Linked DNA regions of Homo sapiens. The protein of the gene in region 4 purifies or fractionates together with the protein of the main gene of each other region. This does not show direct contact. Each region holds a gene or a part of one and is shown on either strand. Other genes may lie near its edges. The genes, in order: SF3B6, SNRPA1, RBM17 and SF3B2.

The links.
Region 1: the proteins of SF3B2 (region 4) and SF3B6 fractionate together in Homo sapiens (co-fractionation; 5 studies listed by BioGRID and IntAct, with this or other methods). This does not show direct contact.
Region 2: the proteins of SF3B2 (region 4) and SNRPA1 purify together in Homo sapiens (affinity purification with mass spectrometry; 7 studies listed by BioGRID and IntAct, with this or other methods). This does not show direct contact.
Region 3: the proteins of SF3B2 (region 4) and RBM17 purify together in Homo sapiens (co-immunoprecipitation; 5 studies listed by BioGRID and IntAct, with this or other methods). This does not show direct contact.

The regions. Positions count from the first base shown.
Region 1 is NC_000002.12:24,073,300-24,081,235, reverse strand, and holds the start of SF3B6 (splicing factor 3B subunit 6), read left to right. Parts: upstream 1-4,909; 5' UTR 4,910-5,006; coding exon 5,007-5,036; intron 5,037-7,041; coding exon 7,042-7,160; intron 7,161-7,936. Other genes in the region: TP53I3 (quinone oxidoreductase PIG3), read left to right, coding at 205-417, 1,596-1,792, 3,475-3,657.
Region 2 is NC_000015.10:101,292,234-101,299,222, reverse strand, and holds the start of SNRPA1 (U2 small nuclear ribonucleoprotein A'), read left to right. Parts: upstream 1-3,974; 5' UTR 3,975-4,044; coding exon 4,045-4,126; intron 4,127-6,050; coding exon 6,051-6,198; intron 6,199-6,989. UniProt on the Homo sapiens protein: Involved in pre-mRNA splicing as component of the spliceosome. Associated with sn-RNP U2, where it contributes to the binding of stem loop IV of U2 snRNA.
Region 3 is NC_000010.11:6,113,014-6,117,954, reverse strand, and holds the end of RBM17 (splicing factor 45), read right to left. Parts: intron 4,448-4,941; coding exon 4,374-4,447; intron 3,907-4,373; coding exon 3,808-3,906; intron 2,717-3,807; coding exon 2,644-2,716; intron 2,503-2,643; coding exon 2,399-2,502; 3' UTR 508-2,398; downstream 1-507. UniProt on the Homo sapiens protein: Splice factor that binds to the single-stranded 3'AG at the exon/intron border and promotes its utilization in the second catalytic step. Involved in the regulation of alternative splicing and the utilization of cryptic splice sites.
Region 4 is NC_000011.10:66,047,823-66,055,374, reverse strand, and holds the start of SF3B2 (splicing factor 3B subunit 2), read right to left. Parts: upstream 3,012-7,552; 5' UTR 2,991-3,011; coding exon 2,858-2,990; intron 2,703-2,857; coding exon 2,656-2,702; intron 2,349-2,655; coding exon 2,271-2,348; intron 2,232-2,270; exon of another isoform or gene 2,147-2,231; intron 300-2,146; coding exon 60-299; intron 1-59. UniProt on the Homo sapiens protein: Component of the 17S U2 SnRNP complex of the spliceosome, a large ribonucleoprotein complex that removes introns from transcribed pre-mRNAs.

The DNA.
Region 1 (7,936 bases), on a different chromosome or scaffold from region 4:
TTTCTCCAAAGAACAAGATGGTTTGTATTTGAGTCACAGCGTCCCACCCCCACCAGCCCACCCCCACCCCACCAAATAAAAAAGGAAAAGCAAAAGATTGATTTGGCATTTGGTGCAACGGCCAGGTGATCTTGATAGAATATGCCTGTGTGGGGAATGTGTAGCAGTTGCAAAGTAAAGAGAACCCTGTACTTTCTGTCACAGGAAATGTTCAGGCTGGAGACTATGTGCTAATCCATGCAGGACTGAGTGGTGTGGGCACAGCTGCTATCCAACTCACCCGGATGGCTGGAGCTATTCCTCTGGTCACAGCTGGCTCCCAGAAGAAGCTTCAAATGGCAGAAAAGCTTGGAGCAGCTGCTGGATTCAATTACAAAAAAGAGGATTTCTCTGAAGCAACGCTGAAATTCACCAAAGGTAAACAACTGCTTCTACAGTTCAGCAGGAATTTAAGAGATGATTAAATAAAAGCCCCACCAGTCTCAAAGTTGCCAGTGCTGTGTATCAGTCTTACCTCTGCTAAGTGCACAACAGCTGCCCTGGCCAAATTCTAGTACTATGGTATTTGACCACTGGAGACAGGCAGTCATATTTAAATCTAAGATGGTTTCCATGTGCATTCTTGCAAGAGATAAGATTCATCCACACTTTAGACCATGCAGACTTGGTCTGGAATTATCCAGCACCTTTTCTTCCCAACCAGCCATTCCACACTTAGTTAACAGGAGGCTTGGAGGCAGAGACCAGTTTGGAGCCAGCCATGGTAGGGTTGGGTGGTAGCACCCTAAATGAGTAAGTAGATGTGCACACCTCTGTATTCCAAAGCCAGACGTGTCTATTTTTGGCTCATCCCTTTCCGTTTCTCTTTCTTTTTTTTTTTTGAGATGGAGTCTCACTCTGTCACTGAGGATGGCGTGCAGTGGCTTGATCTCGGCTCGCTGCAACCTCCGCCTCCCAGGTTCAAGTGATTCTCCAGCCTTAGCCTCCTGAGTAGCTGAGATCACAGGCGCACCACCACGCCCAGCTAATTTTTGTATTTTTAGTAGAGACGGGCTTTCACTATGTTGGCCAGGCTGGTCTCGAACTCCTGACCTCAGGTGATCCACCTGCCTCAGCCTCCCAAAGTACTGGGATTACAGGCATGAGCCACCATGCCTGGCCTCCATTTTTTATGTGAGTAGAAAAGGAGAGATGAAACCAAAGCTAGAAAGCCTATGATTCCAATAACCTAGTGCGGACACTTCCTAACTTCTATGTGAACAACTAGCCTAGGTTGGGCCTCCTGTATTCTGTTCTCAATCGTGCCTGGGTGTCAGTGGGACTGTACTTATTTTGGCATGACAGGAGACGCTAGGTCATGGTGCCCCATTTCCCTCTTGCTGTAGCTAGGCCTCATAAATGGTGAACTTCATACATGCTATCATAGAGTTCTGCTATCTAAACTCCATTTACAACAGTTCTTCAAGCAGTGTTTCTAATTCCAACCTATAGATTTACCACTTGCATCTGTATTTATATCCATAATCCCCAAATATACCATGGTATCTTATTTAGCACCAAGCTGACTAGCATCACAAATCTGTTTCCTATGGAAGGTGCTGGAGTTAATCTTATTCTAGACTGCATAGGCGGATCCTACTGGGAGAAGAACGTCAACTGCCTGGCTCTTGATGGTCGATGGGTTCTCTATGGTCTGATGGGAGGAGGTGACATCAATGGGCCCCTGTTTTCAAAGCTACTTTTTAAGCGAGGAAGTCTGATCACCAGTTTGCTGAGGTCTAGGGACAATAAGGTGAGTGATGAATGAAAAGAAAACATGTGATTTAACCCAGAAAAGTGTGGTTCATTTACATTACCCCGAGAAAGGAAGCTCTACCTTAGATTACGGAGGTTAGTTTCTATGAAGAAACCTCCCCCTCTGAAGATAAAGAGGGAACCCGATTTCAGAGAACTGATTCAGATTGGTTGATAGAAGCTTCAGTATCATGAAAAGAAGTGTAGCTGATACTTCACAGGTTATCTGAACATTCTAACAGAATGAAGAAAGCACTGACTATATTAGGAAGTATTTCGAGTAGTTCCAAGACTTTGTTTTCAAAGGCAGAATTCATCTCAGTGTGCTAGAAAGTCTCTTAGGTGAGTAAAAAAATAAGTAAGCCTTGGCCTTCAACAGATTATAGGTTCCATGCCGGGCACAGTGGCACTTGCTTGTAGTCCCAGCTACTTGGAAGGCTGAGGCAGAGGATTGCTTGAGTCCAGGAGTTTCAAGGCTGCAGTGAGCTATGATTGCACCTGTGCATAGCCACTGTACCCCAGCCTGAGCAACATAGCAAAACCTCATCTCAAAAAAAAAAAGATTATATGCTCCTGAAATATTCCATCTGGCAGTCTAGCAGGTACCACCTTTGGGAATGTTTCCACCATAGGGTTTTGCACCAGCTGAGGGACAGGAGAGCTTAAGCATCCTTTTTTCACTAAGCCTATATGAGTCCTATCTGTGGCTGCCTCCTGGGTAAAGACACTTTATTTAAAAACAATTCTTAGGCTGTCAGTGACACTAACATTTTACTCCAGGCTTCAGTCTTTATCTGGTACAGAACAGAAGTTACACATTTGGAGGTACAAGGGAGCCAGAGATCACCTGTAACCCCCCTTTAGCTCCTATGTGGTCTCTTCAGCTGGCTCTAGAAACCAAATTGATACCAGCAGATTGACAGGAGAAAAGCATGTACTTTTTTTTTTTTTTTTTTTTTTTATGGAGACAGGGTCTTACTCTGTCACCCAGGCTGGAGTGCAATGGCACAATCAGCCTCCTGGGTAGCTAAGACTGAAGGCATACCACCATGCCTGGCTTGTATTTTTTATAGAGACAGGTTTTCACCATGTTGCCCAGGCTGATCTCAAACTCCCAGGCTCAAGTGATTCGGCCAAAGTAAGATGCTTTTGTAATTTTTAGACAAAGAACAATAAATTTGAGAAGAAATAAGACAAAATCTGGCTAGGGATAGTAAATTTCTAGGGAAGTCACTAGGAGATATATGGGGGTGGGGGGTGTAAAACTAGTGGAAGATAAGGGTTACTTCCTTAAGTGTATTTATTCAGTTCCATTGCAGCCCCGTTTCCAGTCTCTGGTGATAAGGGCTTTTTGCCCTAGTATGGGGAGGGTACCCCTCTCAGAGGAATCTTTATGACTTGCTACATGCAAGAAGAGACAGGTCAGCTAGCCTTTTCTGAAACTACAATTTCTCCAATGCTTTCACCTCAAAATTAACAATATACCTATCGGACATATTCTGAGATGGCACATGACTCCTTCAAGGGTATTTCACACACATGCTAGGAAGTGAGGGGTTAAGTGTCCCTGTGTGCTTTTTCAGATACGTGGCTTCAGAGAGAGCAAGAAGGCTGAGGAGGATGAGGAGGGCAGGGTGAGGCTCTCTCCCCAGGCTGATGATCTCCTTTCCCTTGTCTTAGTACAAGCAAATGCTGGTGAATGCTTTCACGGAGCAAATTCTGCCTCACTTCTCCACGGAGGGCCCCCAACGTCTGCTGCCGGTTCTGGACAGAATCTACCCAGTGACCGAAATCCAGGAGGCCCATAAGTACATGGAGGCCAACAAGAACATAGGCAAGATCGTCCTGGAACTGCCCCAGTGAAGGAGGATGGGGCAGGACAGGACGCGGCCACCCCAGGCCTTTCCAGAGCAAACCTGGAGAAGATTCACAATAGACAGGCCAAGAAACCCGGTGCTTCCTCCAGAGCCGTTTAAAGCTGATATGAGGAAATAAAGAGTGAACTGGAAGGGTGGCACGCGGACTGGGGCCGCCGCGGCGGGGTTGAGGTGGGAGTCCGGACGGGCGTCGCAGCGGGGATTACTGAGGCCCGATCAGCTGACGCTCAACCTGAGGGCCCCTCCAGGGACGGAGATTCTGGGTATAGTTACAGCGTCAGCCGTGACACAAGCCGCCAGAACCCCACATATTCCGCCTTGCGCACAGCTAGAGGCCCAGGCCCACCACCTCCGGCACCTGCCCGCGCGCCCCGCAACCAGTGGGCACCACAGCAGGCCCCAGCCCTGCCCGCTACTCACCTGGGCCCCACCCCACCTCTCGCCGCCCTCCTCAGGCCCCACCACCTCCCGCTACACATCTGAGCCCCGCCCCACCTCCACCACTTTCCTCAGCCCCAACCACCTCCTGCTACACTTCTGGGCCCCGCCGCACCTCCACCACCCTCCTCAGGCCCCGATCCCTTCCGCTACTCACCTGGGTCCCGCCCCAGCTCAGTCCTCCTCAGGCCCCGCCTTCGCCCGCTACTCACCTGGGCCCCACCCCACCTCTCGCCACCCTCCTCAGGCCCCACCACCTCCCGCTACACATCTGGGCCCCGCCCCACCGCCACCACCCTCCTCAGGCCCCGCCCCTTCCATTACTCACTTGGGTCCCGCCCCAGCTCACCGCCTTGCTCAGGCCCGGCTCCCTCCCGGATACTCACTTGGGCCCCACCCCAGCTCTCCGCACCCTCCTCAGGCCCCGCCCCCTCCCGCTACTCACCTGGGTCCCGCCCTACCTGTCATAACCCTGCTCAAGCCCCGCCTCCTCCGCTCCCCAGTTACTCACCTGAGACCCGCCCCAGCTCTCCGCCCTCCTCAGGCCCCGCCCTCTCCACCCGGGTTCCTCTGCTCAGGGCCTCCCCGACCGGAACATCTCGCCTTTTGGAGGCTACGCCCCGCCCTTTACGGTACAGAGCCCGGAAGTGTCTTGGACTCTCGCCTTTCCATCTTCCGGCCTCGAGTCTCGCTCAGGCTCGGTTTTACCCCGGAGTCTATTCGAAGGGGGCTGCTACGTCAGCGCGTCTCAGCGTAAGACGGCGCTATTCCGCTGTAACAGCTTCCGGCGGGTCCTGGATGTTGATGTCCTGCATCTAACGCGGTGTAACCCCCGAAGCCGAGCGAGCTCCGGAGGAATTTCAGTATCTGCTACGGTAACTTCATCAGCCCGCCAAGATGGCGATGCAAGCGGCCAAGAGGGCGAACGTGAGTATCGGGTGTTCTGCGGAGGGTGGGAGAACTTCGGGTTTGACTTTCTTAGCGGCGTGGATCGGAGCATTCTTGCTCCTCCTCCGTCCCCAGAGCGGAGAACTCCAGAATTCCTATCCTGTCAGCGAAGACACTATCCGGCCCCATCCTCAGAGATATGCTCCTTGAGCCACATTTCTGTCCCCACCCCTTTTGAGAGTTCCTCAGTCTCTACCCTAGTGTCAGTGATAGTGTTACCCCTATAGCCTCTTTGCTTGACCCGCACCTAAGGACCTGGCGTTAGGATTATCTCCTTGACTTAAAGTCGATATCTCAGAAGAGTCCTCAACTAACTTAATGGTTCACCAACAACTAGGACCTGGGATTCCCCTCAGATCATGGTGCTTTTCGGATCCTTCATTAACACATTAATTAAAACAATATTTTTTGAGCACCTACTATGTATTCTGCTTGCCATGTGGGACATAATTCATCAATTATATTTATTGAATAGCTACTATGTGCCAGACACTAGTCTTACGTATTGGGAATACAGCAGTGAATAAAACAAGTCCTTCTGCTTACATTCTAGTGTTTGAGAGTACAGTGTTACGGAAACTTTTAAAAAAAAAAAACTCAAAAAAGAGATTAGTCAACAGTAAAACGCTTAGAGGTGTAAGATGAAGTTAGGCCGAGTGAGGTGGCTCATGCCTGTAATCCCCGCACTTTTGGAGGCTGAGGTGGGAGGATTGCTTGAGCCCAGGAATTCAAGGCTGCCTTGAGCCATGATTGTGCCACTGCGCAGCACTTCAGCCCAGGAGACAGAGCAAGACCCTGACTCAAAAAAAAAAAAAAAAACAGAAAGAAAGAAAGAAAGAAAGAAAAGACAAGCAATTGACCATTGTATATGTAAATGGAGACTTTTGGTGACCTTGATGATAGGAATCATTTCAGTGGATGAAAACTTGATTGCAGTGGGGTGAAAAGATGGTGGAAGTTGAGAAAATGGAAACAGCAAAGACACTCTGTCCATGAGTTCTCATTTAAATAGGAAGTAGGGAAATTGGATGATAGTTGACTTTTTTTTTTGAGATGGACTCTCACTCTGTCACCCAGGCTGGAGTGCAGTGGCACAGTCTTGGCTCACTGCAACCTCTGTCTCCTGAGTTCAAGCAATTCTCCTGCCTCAGCCTCTTGAGTAGCTGGGATTACAGGTGCCCACCACCATGCCCGGCTAATTTTTGTATTTTTAGTAGAGACAGGGTTTCTCCGTGTTGGCCAGGCTGGTCTCAAACTCCTGACCTCAAGTGATCCACCTGCCTTGGCCTCCCAAAACGCTGGGATTACAGGCATGAGCCACCGCACCCGGCCAGATAGTTGACTTTTTAAAAGATGTGTGATATAGGTGTATCTTTATGCCAATGGGAGCAATCCAGCAGAGTGTGCGAAACATGATATGGAAGAAAGATAGGTTGAGTTTAGAAGTGAAGGTTTTGAGTAGATGAAGGTTGGCGTAGTAATAGAGGGAAAGTAGTTGGATATAGATGAAAAGTATTTCAATTGGTCATGTCTATTTTCTCCAAGAAACAAGAATCAGGGTCATCTCCTGGGATGGGCAGGGAAGAGGGTACAGCCCAACTCAGGTGTTAGCAGGAGTGATGGTGGTAAGGTTTGCAAAGGCCTACACCCACCACCATGCCTGGCTAATTTTTTAAAATTTTTGTAGAGATGGGGGTCTCACTATGTTGTCCAGGCTGGTCTCAAACTCCTGGGCTCAAGTGATCCTCCCACTTTGCCTCCCAAAGTGCTGGGATTATAGGGACCAGCCACTGCACCCAGCCTCTGTTGCTTTTTCAAAGATCTGCCCATTTTCAGAAACATCAAATTATACCTCTTATTCTTGGCTTTTTATTATTACGTATCATTAAGAATTTTTTAAAATGCCCCTAATTATAGGGGCATTTAAATTATAATTTTTTAGAATGCCCCTAATTATAATAACAATACGTATTTCTCATTTTAGATTCGACTTCCACCTGAAGTAAATCGGATATTGTATATAAGAAATTTGCCATACAAAATCACAGCTGAAGAAATGTATGATATATTTGGGAAATATGGACCTATTCGTCAAATCAGAGTGTGAGTCTTACTGAGTCATTTAAAGAAAATGATAGCATAATCTGTAATTTCAGAATTATAGCTGACGATGAGGCCACCCTGTGCTGTGTGCAGTGCGACAACCCTTACCAAGAGCCTTGAGACTAGCAGATTGAGATCAGAGAGATGAGATCTTTTTGAAGGGGGGAGAAAACCTACTGAGACCCTAATGATCCAGCTCAATGAGAGCCAAGAAGAGGATTTGAGTTTCCTCAAAGCATTCATTGAAGTAGTAATGAATGCTTTGAGGAAACTGGTTGAGAAGGGAAAGAACTAACATTTATTGCATACCTGTTATTTGTAAAGCTAGCTTGTTACACTGTGTTTTTTGTATGCAGCAGCTCTATAATTTTCTCAACAATCATCACTGTCTCTTTAAATAACCCCAGAATTTCTGAATAAACTAAGTAAAAGAGTATAAAAGTAACAGAAAAAAATGATATTTTCAACTACAGCTCTTTCAATTGAAGATGTAAAAGTATAGAGGAAAACATCTAATTACAAGCATTCACGTTTTAATTTAATATAAAGATTGGGGTTCATACCTTCAAGTGATATTTACTGGACATCTACTGAATACCATTAACCATAATAAGTGCTTTTATTTGGATCAACAAAACTATAGCCCTGAGAGTAAAGTACCTTTCTATCTTACAGTGCTTAGTGGTAAAATCTTCTGACTCTAAATTGAACCTCTACATTACACAGTACCATAGCCTCTGACACCCGAACTCATATGAAAGGGCTAGTGACTTAAG
Region 2 (6,989 bases), on a different chromosome or scaffold from region 4:
ATAAAACTATCTTTTTTTTTTTTTTTTTTTTTTTTTTTTGAGACCGAGTCTCACTCTGTTGCCCAGGCTGGAGTGCAATGGCATGATCTTCACTCACTGCAACCTCCGCCTCCCTGATTCAAGTGATTCTCGTGCCTCAGCCTCCCAAGTAGCTGGGATTACAGGTACGTGCCACCACACCCGGCTAATTTTTGTATTTTTAGTAGAGGCGGGGTTTCACCATGTTGGCCAGGCTGGTCTCAAACTCCTGACCTCAGGTGACCCACCCACCTCAGCCTCCCATAGTGCTGGGATTACAGGCGTGAGCCACCACGCCCAGCCAACTATCATTATTCTCAAATAGCATGGTTATGTATGTAGAAAATCCACAAGAATGGTTACAGATAAACTTAAGTAAATTTCACAAGATCGCTGGATGTAACGCCAATATACAAAAATCTGCTGTATTTAAATATATCAAACTAATGATTAGAAAATGGAGTTTTTAAACAAAAGGTACTATTTACAGTAGCATCAAAATCTATCAAATATCTAGACAATCTAGTAAAGGATATACAAGGCCTTGACACAAAATCTGCAGGATGCTGCTGAAATTAAAGAGTGCCTCAATAAATGTAGGGCTATAATATGCCCATTGATTGGAATACTTCATATTGTAAAGATATTAATTCTCTCCAAATTCTTCTACAGATCCAACACACTACAAATCAAATCATGGGTGCTTTTTCACATATATCTATAATTTATGTTCACATGCAAAGGATTAGAATAATCAGATAACTACTAGATAATCTGAGAAAAAAATGGGAGCTTTTTTTGAGGGACAAATACCAAGTCTTTTTCTAAAGCTTGTATTCTGCAAGGATAGCTGACTAAACCCATGGAAAAGAACAGCTAGTTCAGAAGCAGAGGCCCTCACATATTTGGACACTTGATTTTTGAAAAGAGCTGCTCTGCAGAGCAGTGGGGGAGAAGATGGTCTTTTCAATAAATGGTGCTGGGTCCACCAAATATCCATATGGGGAAAAATATATCTTCTTCCCTACCTTAGACTATGCACAAAAATCTAGGCCAGAGAGACTGCAGATCTAAATGGACAAGGTGGAAGAAGAAAGCTTTTAGAAGAAAATATAATTTTGGAGTAGGCAAAAGTTTCTCACAGCGTACTCGAAAACTATTAGCTGTATAGGGAACGGTTCATAAATCAGACTGTATTAAAATGAAGAACCTCTATTCATCAAAAGATACCATTAAGAGAGTGAAAACCCAAGCCACAGGGGGAAGATACTCACTACAGACATAGCTCACAAGGTTCCTATTGAAAAAATATAAAGAGCTCCTACAAATCAGTTTAAAAATAAAGCCCAATAGAAAAATGGGCAAAACACCTAAGCAGACACTTCATTAAAGAGGTTATCCAAACAAACATAAATATATTTTTTAAAGTTCTCAATTGTGTTAGTAATTAGGGAAATACAGTTAAAACCACAATTTCATACCATTACCTATCTACCAGAATGGCTAAGATTAAAAAGACAATACTAAACGTTAGCAAGGAGTTTAAGTTGGCAACCACTTTGGAAAACTATGTCCTACTTAAGCTGAACATAAGTAAGCCCTATGACCCAGTAATTCCATCCCTGGGAGTATATCAGTATATGTGTTCACATAAAGATATATATTATTGAGTTTGTAGGTACACTATTTATAATATAAAAGAGTGAAAATTACCCAAATGTTCATCAACAGCAGAATGGATAAGTAAATTGTAAAACATCCACAATGAAATACCATATTACAGTGAGAATAGATTAACTACATCTACACACAAACATAATGTTTAGCAAAAAATATGCAAGGTACTTCATTTGCATAAATACAAAACTAGATAAAGCAAATCTATACAAGATGGCAGGATAATGGTTACCCTTGGGGCAAGGGTGGTGACTAGATGAAGACAGGAGGAGGGCTTCTGGAATGTGGCAATGTCCTGTTCTTACGAGGATGCTAGTTGGTTGGGTGTGTTCAGTTTGCATTCTTCTATATGTATATCATACTTCAATAAAAGTTCAAGGAGAATCATCTCCGGGTGGATTGCAGAACTAAATGTGAAAAGCAAAACAATCGTCTAGTAGACCACATAGGAAAATATGATGGGGGTAAGGGAAGATTTCCTAAGGCACATGCACATGCACACACACCCAATCCACTAACCTAAAGAAAATAATTGAACTACATAAAACTTGGAAACTTCTCAGCCAGGCGAGGCGGCTCACGCCTGTAATCCCAGCACTGTGGGAGTCTGAGGCAGGTGGATCACTTGAGCTCAGGAGTTGGAGACCAGCCTGGGCCACATATCAAAACCTTGTCTCTACAAAAAATACAAAAGTTAGCCAGGCCTGTTGACCTGTGCCTATAGTCCCGGCTATTTGGGAGGCTGAGGTGGGAGGATCTCTTGAGCCTGAGAGGTCAAGGCTGCAGTGAGTCCTGATGGCACCACTGCACTCCGGCCTAGGTGACAGAGTGAGACCCTGTCTAAAAAAAAAAAAAAAAAAAAAAAAAAAAAATCTAATCATCAACACCATTAAGAGTGAAAAGGCAAGCCACAGAGTGTGTTCATATCCCTAATATATAAAGAAATTCCACAAATCAATAAGAAAAAAGGCAGACAACTCCATAAGGAAAAAAAAAAAATGAGCCAGGGACTCGAAAGAACACTTAACCAAGGAAGCTATCAGAATGGGCACCATACACATGAGAAGGTTCTCAGCTTCATTAGTTATTAGAGAAAAGCAAAGCAAAGCAGTAGTGCAATACCACCACACACCCATCAGAATAGCTGAAGTTATAGAGTTAAAATGCCAAGAAGGCTGAAGCTGGAAGCCATGAAAACCCTTACACACCGCTGGAGTGTGTATATTATTTCAGCCTCTTAGCATAACTGTTGGGCATTACTTATTGATGATAGATATACCCTATGTCCCAGCAGTCCCACTCCAGGACAAACTCATGCAAACGTGCATCAGAACCACGTACCAGAAAATTCATAGTAGCATTACTCAGAATAGCCCTAACTGAAAACAACTTTGATGTCTATCAACAGCAGAATAAGTAATTTATGGTATAATATATACAATGGAATTCTCTTCAGCAGCAAAAGCAAACAAACCATCTCTGTATGCAACCTGGATGGACTCCAGACATAATATAGACTCCATGAAACTAGGCCAAAAAAAAAAGCATACTGCATGATTCTATTTATAGCAAAAGCAAGCAAACCGAATTTGTAGTGTTGAGTTCGCGGTTGCCTTTTGGGAAAGAGGGAGGCTTTCAGAATAGCGGTGTTTTGGATCCCGGTGTCGGCTACGCAGCTGTGTTCACTCTGGTCATTAATCACTGTAAATTCCTGATATGCACACTTTTATGTATATCACATTTCATACATATGAATATTCAGAAGTCTAAAGGTCACAAGCTTAACCGCAAACCCTACCGTGCCCGAGGCCGGGCTGGACTTGCGGGGCGGTGGGGTTGTCCCGGCGACCTGCCCCAGGCGGGCCACCTAGCCCGGGATCTCACACTGTAGCCCGGAGCCAAGGCCCAGGCCCGGGGCGGGCACCTGAACTGCTGGACCCTTCACTGAACCCCACGGGTTCCCGCGACGGCTGGTGGAGGGAGGACAGTCACCGCTTCCCCTCCCACCTCGAGGTGCGCTAATGCATGAGAAAGTTCCCCTCGGGTGTTTCCACATTCGCCTTAACTTTTAAACACCAACGTCTGGAATCAGGGGTCCTCCAGACTCCGAAACACACCCTAGGAAACAACCCAGAACGAGACACATCCCCTGTGCGCGCGCCACGACTTCCGGCAAGAACGCCCCCGGAGGCGTGGCTCTTCGATTGCTTCGGCCTGGCGGTCGAGCTGCGCGCGCACTCGGCGGCTGCGATTGGTGCTGCCTGGCGGCGGGGCGCGGGGCACGCTGGGACGTCTCGCTGGCGGGAGGCCACGGGCTTTCCACAGCGCGGGGGAACGGGAGGCTGCAGGATGGTCAAGCTGACGGCGGAGCTGATCGAGCAGGCGGCGCAGTACACCAACGCGGTGCGCGACCGGGAGCTGGACCTCCGGGGTGAGTCCGGGGGCGTGGGCGGCCAGTCCCCAGGCGGCACCGAGCCGCCTTATTTTCCGCGCTTTGCCGCGTGCACCGAAGGCCGGAGCTTGGCCCGCGGGCCGGTTGTCTGGGCTCCGACCGGGCTGCGCAGGGAACGCCGGGCCTGATTCTTGCCGTTGTTGCCAGATGAGCATCCGGTTAAGCTCCTGGGAGCCTTCTGTTAGCGCCGTGCCTCTTGACAGGCACGGGTGACTTCATTACTTCCTGGTGCGTCCTCGTGGGGCCCTGTTAGGCCTTGCTTGGCTGTTTCGCCGCTGGCTGTTTGAGGGCCCGGAAGAGCGGCTCATTAATGGTTGTAACGCAAGTGCAGGGCGCGGGATTGGTTCTTAATACTTGCCGCCAGATGATATTTTGAGCGTAGATAGGATATGTGTTCATTATTCCTAATGTGAGGGAGGAAACTAAGTCCCCGAACAACCGCGATTGTTTCCTCCAGTATTTTCTACTTAGTAGCTTTAATTGTCTGGCGTTTCCCCTATATGAAGACGTTTTAAAAATTGAACTGTGTCACCCAGGCTTGCACCGCCGGGTGCTGTGTGTAAGTTGTGGAAGCGCTCGCAATTATTCAGATTCCTGTACTATTTCAACCTTAGCAAGACTTGGTAAGATACTGGGAGGGCAGCTAGCTAGTTGGCATTTCAGGAGACGGCTTTAAAAGGGACGTGATAGAGCAACTTCTCTGAGGATAAGACCATGCTGTCGTAGCCTGAGATTTGTTCCCATGGGGACCTATGGCCTCGGAGCAGCATCGCTGCGGGATCTGCTTAGATTTCTTGCCGACCTTTGGGAAATCCCACTGTTTTGTGTTGTGTTGTGTTGAGATGGAGTCTCGCTCTTTCCGCCCCAGCTGGAGCGCAGTGGCGTGATCTCGGCTCACTGCAACCGCCGCCTCCCCGGTTCAGGTGATTCCTGTGTCTCAAGCCTCCCGAGTAGCTGGGAATACAGGCATGCGCCACCACGCCCGGCTAATTTTTTGTATTTTTAGTAAAGACATGGTTTCTCCATGTTGGTCAGGCTGGTCTCGAACTCCCGACCTCAGGTGATCCGCCCGCCTTGGTCTCCCGAAGTGCTGGGATTACAGGCTTGAGCCACTGCGCCCGGCCCAACTCACCACTTTTGATGATCTCTGCCATTTCTCTTTATGGAGCATGTGCAGTGTTGAGAATACGTATTTTGATGCAGTACGTGTAGTACAGCTCTGAATTGTGTCCTTTAACTTTGGGTAAGTTCTTTTTTTAGTAGACCTTGCTTCTTCGGAATATTTCTTTTCTTATAGTGCCTAACACAATAATTATGCCCAAATTAGACAAATTAACATTTGAGTGTTCACAGATTTATTACTGTATTTAAACCATTGATCTTCAATTCTGAATTGGAGCTGGGGGAGGGGAGGGAGAACTGTCGTGATATGTTGAGGCTGTTCTGATGGGTTCTAAGAATCTGGCCTGTGGAGATGCAAGAGTGGAGAACTGTCGTCCACAATGTTTGAACGCCGTTTGGGCACTGAGACTAAGCAGCTCCAAGTGTAAACTCCTGTTGTGCCGATTCCGCTTAACTAGCCCAAACGACTTAGGACAGTGTGAGGCACCTTGTAAATGTTCTTATAAATGTTAGCTGCCTATATCAGCCATTGTTATTGTCCTTGTCCTTGTTGTCATCAGATTCTAAGCTTCATGGCACTGGGGACTTGAGACTCGTTCAGCGTTTTCTCTCTAGTATCTTAAACAGCGGCAAGTCATGCGTGACCCGACATAGGTGCTAGGTAATACTTCCTGAATAAATCAAAGCCTGGAGTCAGATACTATGAAATACAGCTAATGCTTTAAGGGGCAACTGTTTAGTTATATTAATACCTCTTGTGTTTTTTTCCTCCATTTTATAGGGTATAAAATTCCCGTCATTGAAAATCTAGGTGCTACGTTAGACCAGTTTGATGCTATTGATTTTTCTGACAATGAGATCAGGAAACTGGATGGTTTTCCTTTGTTGAGAAGACTGAAAACATTGTTAGTGAACAACAACAGAATATGGTACGTGTCTGTAGGGGAAAGTAATTTTTTCCCCTAGAGTAAATGTTGCAGTGTTTCCTGAAGAAGTTGTAGCACGTGCTACTGGTTAAACCTACATGTTTCTTTTTCTTTTTCTTTTTCTTTTTTATTTATATTTTGAAAAAATATTTTTTCCATAATGGAAGCCACATTCAATACATGTTTTTTCTTAAAATGAGAAATGAACTTCACTTTTCCTATAGAGATCCAGAGATTAACCTGGCATTAGTCTAGTCTTACTTGTATCTGTTCAGAAATCATGTATTTTTATTTTCATGGTTAAGTTTCTAAATAAAAACATGTTGCTTTGTATACATTTTGGCTTCTAAAACAATTATCAAAGGGGTCATAGTAAAAGGATATATAAAGGTAACAATTATACTTTTGACTGAGCGTCTCTGCTTTTTTTTTTTTTTAACTGCAACTAATTTCTAGACTGTTACTTATTGAAATTGAGATCTTTTTTGACCCTGCCTTCATCAGCTCTGTGTAAACTTTATTGGAAAAAAAGCACTTGGTGTATAGATAATGTCTTTAAAGGTACTGGGTGGTGAGTGGGATTTCCTTCAGATAGAAATATTTCTCATAGGTTAACCATTCCCCTATAGTATAGTTGTTGTGTCTTGTACCTGAGCTGGGAATCCAGAATTATTTGTATTTCTGTGCTGCCTGCACAAAAAATCATGAAGTGAGTTAAGTAGTTTGTGCCACCCAGGAGTTGCACCTTTTCTCAGGTTCCACTAGATGGTATGACAGTGGAATTAGCCCCAGGC
Region 3 (4,941 bases), on a different chromosome or scaffold from region 4:
GGTGCCGGTCTGATCAGAGATCCCAAGCGCACAACCCTACTCAACCTGCAAGACAGGCTGGGAAAGCAAGTTTCTAGTCTCTTGCGGGGAGGAGGGAAACAAGGAAGTTCCCCACACAGAAAAAGGCGTTTCAGGCTGGGCTCGGTGGCTCACACCTGTAATCCCAGCACTTGGGGAGGCTGAGGCGGATCACGGGTCAGGAGATCAAGACCATCCTGGCTAACACGGAGAAACCCCGTCTCTATTAAAAATACAAAAAATTAGCCGGGCGTGGTGGCGGGCGCCTGTAGTCCCAGCTACTTGGGAGGCTGAGGCAGAAGAATGGCGTGAACCCAGAAGGCGGAGGTTGCAGTGAGCCCAGATCATGCCACTGCACTCCAGCCTGGGCGACAGAGCAAGACTCCGTCTCAAAAAAAAAAGAAAAAAAAAGAAAAAGGGGTTTCAAAAACTCACAGATGGGCCACCAAGAATGACAAACGTCTATTACACGGAAACTTGCCAGTTACATTGTAGCTTACATAATTTTTAATTTTTATTGAAATTTAAAATTTTTATATTAGCTTAAATGTTAATATTGAAAATTAATTTCAAATTTCTCAAGTACTAACTTGCAGGAGATTTAGAAATTATTCGACTATCAGAAATTCATTATAAATAAAGCACTAACTGATTAACACAGTTATTTTAAAAATAAAAGACTGGGGAGAAAGGCACACACCAAGCTGTCCTCATGCGAACGGAAATCAAGTAGTATGAGTTGGTTGCAACTCTCTGGTTGCTGACCATGAGAATGTTAGGAAAAGCCACCCATTTAGGTGCAAACAATGTTTTACAAAGCATAACAACAATAAATGCATGCATGAAAGGTGGGTTGGAACCATTAGTTTCTAAAATTAAACAAGCACACTCCGGTACTTGTAAGCACAAACATGGTTTCCACTTGAGGAATGGTATGCCTAATTCCATAGATAACTGAAGTTCCAGGGCTGCTTTTGATTCTGTCTTCCACAATGTTCAATTATGTAATTTACCTCACATTCCTTAACCCCAACTTACTTTACAGAACAGGTGCACTTTTATCATAAAACTCAATTTTATTCAATAAAATAATACCACAAAAGATAAAATGTTATTCTTTTATTTATGTTAAATAAAAACATGAGAAAATCCTTTTTTAAAAAGGGTCAGAATATTCCTTATGTCTCCAAACCAAGTCCATGGATGCAAAGAAATGCTGAGTTCTTGATACACTTTCATGTCATAATAACCAAAGGAGACAGCACGGGCTCGAGTCTTTCAGCTGCCGCTTAGGAAAGTCACATGCAGTATTTGGGAAAGCAAGGAACAGAACACAGGCATGAGTATTTTCTGGAAATACCTCCTGCCCTGGCAATGAACCTCAGTACCAAATATTTTTGTTTTCTTTTTTGTGGTCCTGATAAATTTTTAAGCCACACATCCTACTGAACTTCAATGATACAATTTCTCACAATTCCAGAATTCTATTGGCAGTACAGTTTACTTGGCCAACGTGGATAATCTTATAAATTTTAAAATTACATACAATAGAACACTATTGCAAATTTTGCCAGTAGAAACATGACCCCAAGGAACTGCCATTTCCAAAACATAACTGGGCACACATTTACAATGCACCTGCTAGGTTTTGAATTCATTTGTCATTTCTGATCTACCCTTAAGACTATGCTTGAATCTCTGAAAACAAATGCTAGATTCATGATTTCTATACCCACATACTCCATAAATCCATCACAAACCCTACAGTCTGATTTAGCCTACGGCAAATGATTCATCCAATAGGCCATGGTATGTTCACAATTCTTCAATCTTATTCAGGTTGTAAAGACGTTTTTCTACGACTGGAGTCACTAAGAATTTCTCTGTTAGAGAAAGCATCATTTTCACCTTTGGCACACTGCCAAGATGATACTTTACTACAGAATTTATGAAACTACAATTTAGTAACTTGCAGGCTTTATTAAAAGAAAAAGAAAAACAAAGAATAATTTAATATAACCCCATGTCCCAAAACTTTCTAGTTTTTTTTTTTTTTTTTTTTTTAGTGCAAGAAATGCTGCATCATTGAAGCACTTGAGAATTACCATGAAATCTAACAAAAAATGTCATCAACTCAGGAGTAATAATAAAAAAGAGAAACAACCAGAGAGGCACACAGATTGTTGTTTTTTTAAAAGGATTTTTATACTATATTAAAAAACCACAAAATAAAAAAGGGATCAATCAACATATATCTTAGAAGTCCTTCCAAGAGTCTTGGTATGCAACAGCCATGGAGGCTGTGACCTTTTTCCTTCTTTTCTCAGCCTGCAGTTCATTTAAGGATCACCGGAGATGACTCGTGCTCTAGTTCTTAAAATCAAACTTGTTCTGCCAAATCCAAGACCCTGAATTTGTCCAAATTGTAGAAACATGCTTTTACCACCCGTCCACCAAAATACCTCCCATTCAAGTCAACAACCGCTGAAAGGCAAACAAAAGACAGTTAATACAGGTATCCTATAAGATAAAGGTTTAACTTTAATTAAACAGTAACTTTACTTGTAAAGATTAAGGCTGTAAATTCAACTTTTTTATTCTTTAATATTTAGCTGTACCACTAACCTTTAATTGCTGATTCAACTCTCTCAAATTCTAAAAATATCCGTACTGCTTCATCATCAGGGGCACCAGGAATCTGGAAGAAAATGAGAGCGTGATGAGTAAAGGCATTTGAGATTGCATTGAATGAGTTTTCTCTTTTAAATGATTTCTCAGAGTGGATATTCTAATTATCATCATATACAGTCAAGTAGTTGTCAAATACCAAGGAAATAAGTATAATTTGTTCATCATCAAAAACGTACTGAATGCCTGTTTTTATGACAGGCATTGTTAGGTGCCAGGAACACAGGGCTAGGCAGTCTCTGACCTCATAAAGGCCCTGTGCCAGCTGATGACGTAAACAAATAATTATGTGGTCAACAAACAGCAACAGGATAAAGAAACAGAGGAAGCAGAGCTTTCAGATTAAAAAGGCTGGTGCCCTAGTGGCCTTTCACATCAGGTCTCATTTTGACTAGCTCTGTCTAGCTTTCCTAGCCCTCTGTAATTCCACCCACCTAAGCACTTCTGCTAATCCCCAACAGGCCCATCCATTCCATTTTGGTAGTCCTGATCTTCACTGTCTCCTACGAGCCATTATCCCAATCAGAATACCCTTCCCTGCAAATCCCACCTGTTCGTTTCAAAGCGCAGCCCATATCTGCTATTGCTCACAAGGCAGTCTATTTTTTCACTGATCTAATCCTTTTCTCAACTCCTGAACTTAGTCAATACTACCTAGTCTAGTAACTGAATATCTTTCAGTTATTTTATGTGTTTCTTCAACTGAACACACCACTGAGAGTACAGAGCATGCTTCCTGTAATCCAAGTGCTCTCCGCACAGTGCAGTGCATGTGAGAGGCACTAAATACTCACCAAATGACTGAAACCAAAGGCATGTCTAAGGAACTAAACTACTGAGCACGCTAGAATCAAGGTCTTCAGTCATCATACTGATCCTCAATCATGAAGCATTCCTGTTTCTTCATCAAATAAAACTTGAAATCATTGTCTTTATGTTTAAAACTGTAATAATTGAGCAAGAGAAGTACAAATAACCAACGCCTGTCACCTTCTGCAGTAAGAATGTTACTTATAGCATACCCTGTCCTGTTTGTAGAAAATGTTTTGTAATGTGCCAATTACAACTTGTGTTATAAACATCAAAAGAAAACACTCTTACTTCAAATATCACACATTTTCCAACTTTGCCATATTTTTCACATTCTTCCTTGGTTTCAACTTCCAAGTCTTCATCCACCTCTCCCGCACCAACCATGTTCTTTAAACACAAAAATAAACAAATTCAAGTACCAAGTATAACTTACAAACACCTAGCAGAGGTATATAAATATGACTTAGTGATGGTAAATGTTCTCAATCCCAAACGACATAATGAAAAATTTCATCCCCAAAGTACCCAAAAGTTAGTATTTCTTAAAACACTAAAACATATATTAAGCCTGTAAAGAGTTACAAAAGCATCTATGCAAGCACCAAAATGTATAAACTATCTGAAGCTCTAGCAATTTCAAATATTTAATTACTCACTGCAGTCTTAAACACTGTACTTAGCAAAGAGACTTACACATTAGTGAAAAATCTAAAATCAGCCTTACGTGGGATCTGCCCAAAGTATTATTTGCAAAAGTATCATTTTCAGTTTTAACTTTTAGGGGGAGCAGGGTAGGCTGGGGTGACACACACAAATCTAGGCAGGCAGAGAGCTTGCTTTCCTCAGCTTCTTACCCTTAGTAAGACCACTTTAGTAGGACACTTAAGTATTTCAGTCAGCGGATTTGAATCTGACTTCTTGGATGCATCTGTATCAAAACATACCATTAGATGTGTTACAGAACTGAGCAGCATATCATTAGATGTGTTACAGAACTGAGTCCTACTTACAATAATTAATTTAATTTCAATAGCGATCCCCACCATTTATGTCCTAGGCATCTACACAATTGGTCTCTGAGCGAAAACACAGCCTTATCTGCAATAAAAGCCTCTGCTTTGCTTTGGCATGTTTTTACAATAGCATCTGGATGTTTTGAGCCTCCACCATTACTTGCAATTTTTGCTCATCTCACTTCCCAAAGGGCTGACAGGGCATGTGAGTGATAATTCCTATAGGTGAGTTGACTTGGAGCAAACGTTCAAGGTCACGGGCCCAGGGGAATATGCAGTTACTAATCCAGCCACCGGCTGCCTTACTTCAGATAACCTCACAAGTCGGGACAACTGTTGGTTTCTGGCACTCACCTGTCAGGCTCGTGATGTATCCTAAGCTGTGCATGAACGGGGCTGCCAGAAAAGT
Region 4 (7,552 bases):
GCTCCACTGCCCCTTCAGGGACCTAATGAGTCCAAGGCCAGGGCTGCCACCTGCCCTACCTGCTTGGCACGCTCCTCCTGCTGCATCAGCAATGCCGCCTGCTGCTGAGCCAACTTCAGCCGCTCCTCCTCTGACAGTGCCACTGGCTCACCCACACGGAGAGGAGGCGGGGGCCCCAAATTTGGTGGGTGGGCCATAGGAAAGCCAAGGCCAAGGCCTGGTGGAGGTGGTGGGGGTGGCGGAGGAGGCTGCAGAGGGGGGAGTCCCAAAGGTGGTGGTGGCATGGGAATTCCAGGGAGCTGTGGAGAAAATATGATCATAAAACTAGGAAGCATTTATCTACTCATTCTGCAAATATCTGGGGGATCTACTTTGAGTCAGGAGCTGGAATTCTAAGTCAAATGATACATAGTTACCACTCCATAAGAGAGAATGCTCCACAGCTCTATAAAGATATGAGAATGTTAACTTCTGGCACCAACCAAAGGAAGCTATCCACTCTCTCCAAAAAGATATCCTGAATATAGATTCTGCATACAATTCTAGGAGACTCAAAGACGCCTCTGAGGCCATCTAGGGACTCCTCATCCTACACACAGAGATCAGTAGATGCCAGGTCAGAGCCACTGCTTTAGAGAAAATGAGGCAAATCCTGGATCAGAAGGAACATGGAAATTGAGAGGACTTACATAAACAGGAACCACTGTATCTGGGCAATGCAAACCCCAATGACTACTAAACGCAAGGGGTGTGAAATCAAATCAGGGAGCCCTCGATGTCACACAAAAGAACATGGGAACTGTGCCTGGGGCAGGCAAAGAAAAGGGTGATTGCTTCCAGCTGGGTAAGGACAAGTCAGTCTTCCTTGTATTCAAGCTGTATTTTTTTTTTTTTTTTGAGACAAGAGTCTCGCTCTGTCACCCAGGCTGGAGTGCAATGGCGCAATCTCAGCTCACTGCAACCTCCGCTTTCCAGGTTCAAGCAATTCTCGTGCCTCAGCCTCCCAAGTAGCTGGGATTACAGGCACCTGCCACCATGCCCGGCTAATTTTTATATTTTTAGTAGAGACAAGGTTTCACCATGTTGGCCAGGTTGGTCTTGAACTCGTGACCTCAAGTGATCGCCCACCTCAGCCTCCCAAAGTGCTGGGATTACAGGCATGAGCCACCATGCCCTGCCTCTTTTTTTTTTTTTTGAGACAGTCTCGCTCTATTGCCCAGGCTGGAGTGCAGGGGCTTGATCTTGGCTCACTGCACCGTCCACCTCCAGGGTTCAAGTGATTCTCCTGCCTCAGCCTCCCAAGTAGCTGGGATTACAGACATGTGCTACCACGCCCAGCTAATTTTTGTATTTTTAGTAGAGAGAGTTTCGCCATGTTGGCCAGGCTAGTTTCAAACTCCTGACCGCAGGCGATCCACCTGCCTTGGCCTCTCAAAGTGCTGGGATTACAGACATGAGCCACCACGCCCTGCCTCTTTTTTTTTTTTCCTATTTTTTGGTTTAATTTTATTTTATTGTAAGTTTTCGGGTACATGTGCAGTATGCGCAGGTTTGTTACATAGGTAAATGTGTGCTATGGTGGTTTGCTGCACCTATCAACCCACTGCCTAAGTATTAAGCCTGGCATGCATTAGCTATTTTTTCTGACACTCTCCCAGCCCCTCCCCCATCACCTCCCCCCTTTTTTTTTTAAAGAAGCAAAGTCTCATTCTGTCACCCAGGATGGAGTACATGGAGTACAGTGGCGCAACCAGAGCTCACTGCAGCCTCCAACCCCAGGGCTCCAGCAATCCTTGAGCCTCTTTATAGGGACTTTATAGGCGCGTGCCACCGTGCCCAGCTAATTTTTAAAATTTTTTGTAGTAACAGAGTCTCACTATGTTGCCCAGGCTGGTCTCGAACTCCTGGCTTCAAGCGATCGTCCCATCTAAGCATCCCGAAGTGGTGGGATTACAGGCATGCGCCACTGCACCCGGCCACAAGCTGCTTTTGGAGAAGCAGACAGTGGAAAAGGAGGCAAGTGTCAGCATCAAAGAGAGAACTGAAGAGCTCACAATTCTGTCATGGCAGTACCTCCCTGCCCAACAACTGCAAGTGAGAGGAAGGGCTACCCTGAACATATGGAATCTTTTTTTTTCCCCACTCAGGTCAGGCGAGTAATGTGCAAGGGTGTCACATCTCACACATGCACGTGAACACCCAATCATCATGCTCATGAACTACAAAAGGATCAGCAGATGGAATCTTAAAAAACAGAAGAATCTCCCTACCTGTGCCGACATGGGAGGTGGAGCGGCTTTGTCCCCATCTTCCCCTCTCAAAACCGGCCGATTCAGCACGATGCCAGTCTGCAAAAGAGAAAGGACTCTAGGTCAGTCCAAAACTAGCTGTTTCACTAAACGACGTTCGCTCCCAATTCATTCAACAAAACGTACCCAGTGCCTGTCTGCCAGCGCTCTGGCTGGGCACTGAAGAGGACCAAGATGGATACAAGAAATTACAACTAAGCTGGCAAAGGCAAGAACAAGCTAAAAAGGGCAAGCCTCCGCCTTGCTGTGCCGAGATAAAGAAAGAATGAAGACCGAGCCGTGATGGGGTATATAAGGTCTCCTGGAGAAGCTCGGCCTATCCTGACGTCCCGCCGCCAACACCTACCTGGCGGGTGTAGCTCTGCAGCCGCTCCACCAGCTCCTCGCGATTACCTGCAGGGCAAAGTACACGATCAATGGGGCAGGCCAGCCCGGCCAGGTCAGGCCCCAGCGGCCTGCCTCCGCCCCTCGCACCCGAGTCTCCCGGGTAACCAGGCTCCGCTTCTCCGCAGGCCCGTAAAGGCCCCTCGACTTCCTGTGTTCCTCACCCTGGATCGGAGCTCCGATCTCTGCCAACTTGGCCTGAAGCTCCTGGGCAGCCCAGGCGCCATAGTGGCCTGGAGGTGGCGGCGGCGGCAGCTGCAATTCTGCTTTGGGAGGCTCGGGATGCTCCGTCGCCATCTTAGCCGCAGGAAGGCGCGCGACCAACCCGGAAGCTGGGGCCAGCCTCAGGGCCCACTTGCCGGAACTTCCGGTGGCGCCGTATGCCACGTCCTCTCTGGTTGGGAGGCGACGCGCACTCAGGCACACCCGCTGCCGTGCGCTGGGCGACGGGATTCGCCGCAGACGCACCTTTCTCTAGTGGCCCCTCGGCGGTCTGGTCGCGAGGCCTCCTGGGAGTTGTAGTGCGCAGGTCTCGGTCTCTGCGGGCCCTGCGCGCCGCTACGGCCCCGAAGGCCGGCGGCGGGCCGGAGGGCGGGGCTGCGAGGAGGGCTGGCACTTCCCCGAGGGAGTGTTTTCTGCGCCTCACCTGCGGGAGCGAAGGCTCTCAAGCTTTCCGGCCCGGCCCTCCGGTCAGATCCTCGAACGCTTACGCTCCCAGGGAGTCCCGAGAGACTCATTTCCCCGGCGGCCCCGCGTTGCGGGCGCCAAGCGGGAGGCTGGAGCCGATGCCTGGGATAAAACAGTGTCTGATTGTCTGCCCGCCCACCCCCGGCCCAGGCCCGGATGAATGGGCTGAAAGGGGATCCAAGCCGGGAGAGCAGCAGGCCTGCCCGGGCTGAGCTCCAGCTGCCGACCTGGGGGAAGGGCGACTCTAAAGCCCCCTTTTCCACCTTCCAGGCCGGCTCAAATGTCGTCTTCTCCACTAAGCCTCCTCCCGCTTTCCTTTCCTTTCTTAGAGCTCCCATAATACGTTCGAATCTCCACCGTTTGTTAAGTCTTTCTTGCCCTTTCTTCCTACCTCTATCCCAAAAATGTGAGCAGGGACTTGATCATTTTCAGTCTCGCATCGCCTGGCGTTCAAGAGGCGCCCAATAAATGATTACTGGAAAAAAAGGAACAATGTTTCTGGTGAAAGCATTTGTGTCTTTTTTAGTCTCAAAAATAAACTCAGGCCCTTTTCCCTCAGCCGCACCTGCACTGGGGGCCCCACCTTGCCTCCCACTCCCCACCCCAACTCCCCTTGGCCTTTGGAGACAGAGGCAGAGACTGGCAGGGATTCTTGCCTGCCTAGCATCCACCTCTCCCTGTCCCACACCATCAATTCAGTTTCTCTCCCCACCTCTGCCACTAGCTCTGCCCTCTCACCAACAGCTAGCCTGTGTGTGTTTTTTATGTGTGTTGAGAAAGGGAGTGGGGAGACTCAAGTGAAATGGTCTCATTTTCCCCCTACACATCCCCTTCAGATCTTTTCTCCAGCTCCATTTTGCCAACTGCCCCCAGTGGAGAAGAAGCTGGGAACAGGGAAAAAAAAAGAATGGGGCACCAGGTCGGGGGAAGGTGAGGTTTGGGAGAGACAGGGAAAAGGACTGGGTTGAGAAAGGTTGGCTCACATCCTAGCACTGGGTGGGAAGTCCTCTTCCTCCTACCCAAACCTTGACCTTTCCCCTTTCCATCAATATCACTATGGGAGGCTCCTGCAGCCACACTCCCAGAGGAGAAGCCAAACCCGGAAAGGACAGTAACGAAGACAGAAAAACAGCGCCCTTCCCTCCAGCTTGTCAGCCCACTCAGGCAGAACCTTTCTAGCCCAAAGGAAGGCTCTTCTGCTCCCTGTAACTGGAGAGCCCAGGGCAGGTCATCTGAGGCTGAGGGCCCCAAGGCATGTGTAGGTGCTAGGGAAGGGGGCGGGGTCTCTGAGGCAGGATAAACTAAAGGCTGATGGAGTCTCATTTTATTTATTTATTTTTTATTTATTTATTTATTTTTTTTTTTTTTTGAGACAGAGTCTCAGTTGCCCAGGCTGGAGTGCAGTGGCTCTATCTGCGCTCACTGCAAGCTCCGCCTCCTGGGTTCACGCCATTCTCCTGCCTCAGCCTCCCGAGTAGCTGCGACTACAGGCGCCCGCCACCACGCCCAGCTAATTTATTTGTATTTTTTTTAGTAGAGACGGGGTTTCACCGCGTTAGCCAGGATGGTCTCGATCTCCTGACCTCGTGATCCGCCCGCCTCAGCCTCCCAAAGTGCTGGGATTACAGGCGTGAGCCACTGCACCCGGCCTGGAGTCTCATTTTATAACAGCCCTGGGAAGGAGGCAAGGTCTCAAGATCCTCCTCCCCCACGATATTGTACACAGCGGAAGATTGATGGGCAGAGAAGGTGACATGCCCAAGAGGCCAAACTGGGGCCACCAGCAGTCCTTCTGACTCTGAGAGTCCCTATTTCCTCCTCCTCAACCATAACAAGGACCCTCACACTATTTCCTATGTGGGCCTAGAAGGGCGTATCCAGCCCCTTCCAGTCCCACCTTTGGGTGGCTACCCAGCTCCAGGATCCTTGCTTTACCAGGCCCAGAGCAAAATAGAAAGCAGGTGTGCAGGCCAGCCACAGAACTCAGTGTAGGGCTCTTGATGTCTGGCATGGCTTTGGGAGGTGCTGCTGCCCAGCTCCCAGGTGATGGGAGCTGAGGACTAAGAAGTTCACATGGAGCCTTCGTGTGTATTATCTCTGCTACCTCAGAACAGCTTCCCATTTTACAGCTGGAAGCAATAGGGCTTAGGGAGTTGCCTCTTGACTCTGGGATTTAAGAGCAAACCAGGATTGAACTTGGGTTCTTTGATGCCTGGTGGCAGGTGCCTAGGCAGGGGTCCCAGCCTCACTATAGCTCTGGTCAGGAGTGAGTGGGTCTGGAGTCCTAGTGAGGAAAAATGGGTGAGCAGCCAGAAGCTACATCAGAGGGTATGGGGGACACGCTGGAAGGGAAGGGGGCATGTGGGCAGAGATGGGACCAGACAAGGCTGGAGCACTGCTTCTCTACTGGAGGAGGACAGAGGATGTGAGTACCTGCACGTGTACCAGCATCTGGCTCACCCAGAAGCCCACGTATGACCGGCGGTGCCCCAGAATACCCAGCAATGCAGGAGTATCCAGACACCTTCCCGGCCTCAGTTTCCCTGCCTGAGTGAGAGAAGGGAGCTGGCCACATTAGTGTCCAACTCTGCAAGGTTGCCAGAGTAAGACAACTGCATCTGAAGATGCCACCCAGAGACTGTTCACGGCAGCCAGCGGGCAAGCCAGGGAACCACCCCCCCTCCCCCGTCCCCCTTCCTTTCCCCTCTCTCCCCTCTCCCCTACTTGCTCGTGGCCTGGCCCCGCCCCTCGCCTTCCTCCGGTGTGCGATGGGGGGCGGGGGGCGGGGGGCGGGCAGAGCCGGGAGGAGCGAGCCTAGCGGACGCTGCCACCTGATCCCATCCAGGCGCTGAGAGGCAAGCCACCGGCACTCGGCGCGCAGGGCCCCGGGCACCCTCGGACCCCGTGCGGATTTCGAGACAAGGGTCCAGAGATAGCGGCGGCCGCCCCCAACCCGGGCCAGAGGCAGAGCCCAGGCGTGCGGTGTGAGTACTGCAGTGGCCGGCATGGGGTTGGAGGGGTGGGAGTGGACCAGACCGGGATGGGGGCCGAGAGGCGGGCGGGAGAGTGTCTTGGGGGCCTAGTGGTTGGAAAGCATGAGGAGGGGGGCGCTCTACCCCTGGAAAGTGGGAGAAGATAGGGTGAGCGGGCCAATCTGGCCTATCCCCTATGGTGATCAGATCCCACTGGCAGGATCCCTGGGGGATGCTGGGATGAAATTGAGGGAGTGGGAGGTATGGTGCGGGTGGGCAGTAATGGAGACAGGAGGATGGAGGGAATTCCAAGGCAGGGATGATGCGGGGGTGGATGAGAGAGAGAGGAGGCTGGGGGGCCAGGGGCAGACCTGGTGCAGGCTGGGGGGTGGGGGAGGAGGAAAAAGAGGGAGGTGGAAAGATTTGCTCTCCCAGGCCAGTACTTTGCAGACCCCCTCAGCCCTTCGCCCCTCCTCTGGAGCACCCTGGGTCAGCGTCCCTCAACACTGGGCTGTCCCATCCCTCAAGTCAGGACAGGATGGAGTCTCCGGGCCATCCAGCAGTCAGGTCCAAGTGGTCCAGTCCAGGGCACCCCTTCCTCTAAGTGCATCGGTTTCAGCTCTAGAGCTCAGAGGAGACAGAGGAGAAAGGGCTCCTTTAGGAGGGTGGGCACCCCGGCCCATTTTCAAAGCTTTGGTCGGCTCTACTATTTCTTTGGTTCCCTGGAGAAAAGCTAGCAATTTGCAAAACTGGGCAGCAGCGTGAGGTAGATTGTTCTGACTAAAATTAGCACTGACATTCTGATGAGCCTGGGCGTCCTGACCTGCCTGGGATAGCTGGGAGAACTCTCTCTATGGAGAAGACACCAGGCACAATGGGGAGTCGTGTGAAGCATCTGAGGGCAGGAGCCAGGGCCACTGCTCTAAAGCACAGCTCCAGCAGCACCATCATGCACCCCACACCAGCCAGAAAATCCGATGGAAACCCAGCCCAGTGGCCCCCTCCCTGAGAGGCACTGCCTTGGCCCCATCTCCAAAACAGGCATCTTGGAGTCAAATTGCCAAGGGAAGGCAGGCCTCCCACAGTGTCCGAGCAGCACCCTCTCTCAGGACCTGGAATGTTTAGCCTGGCCGAGTGCCCACCCAGAGGAGACAGGGTTACTGCTTCCAAATACCTGAAGGTCTGTCATGGAGAAAAATG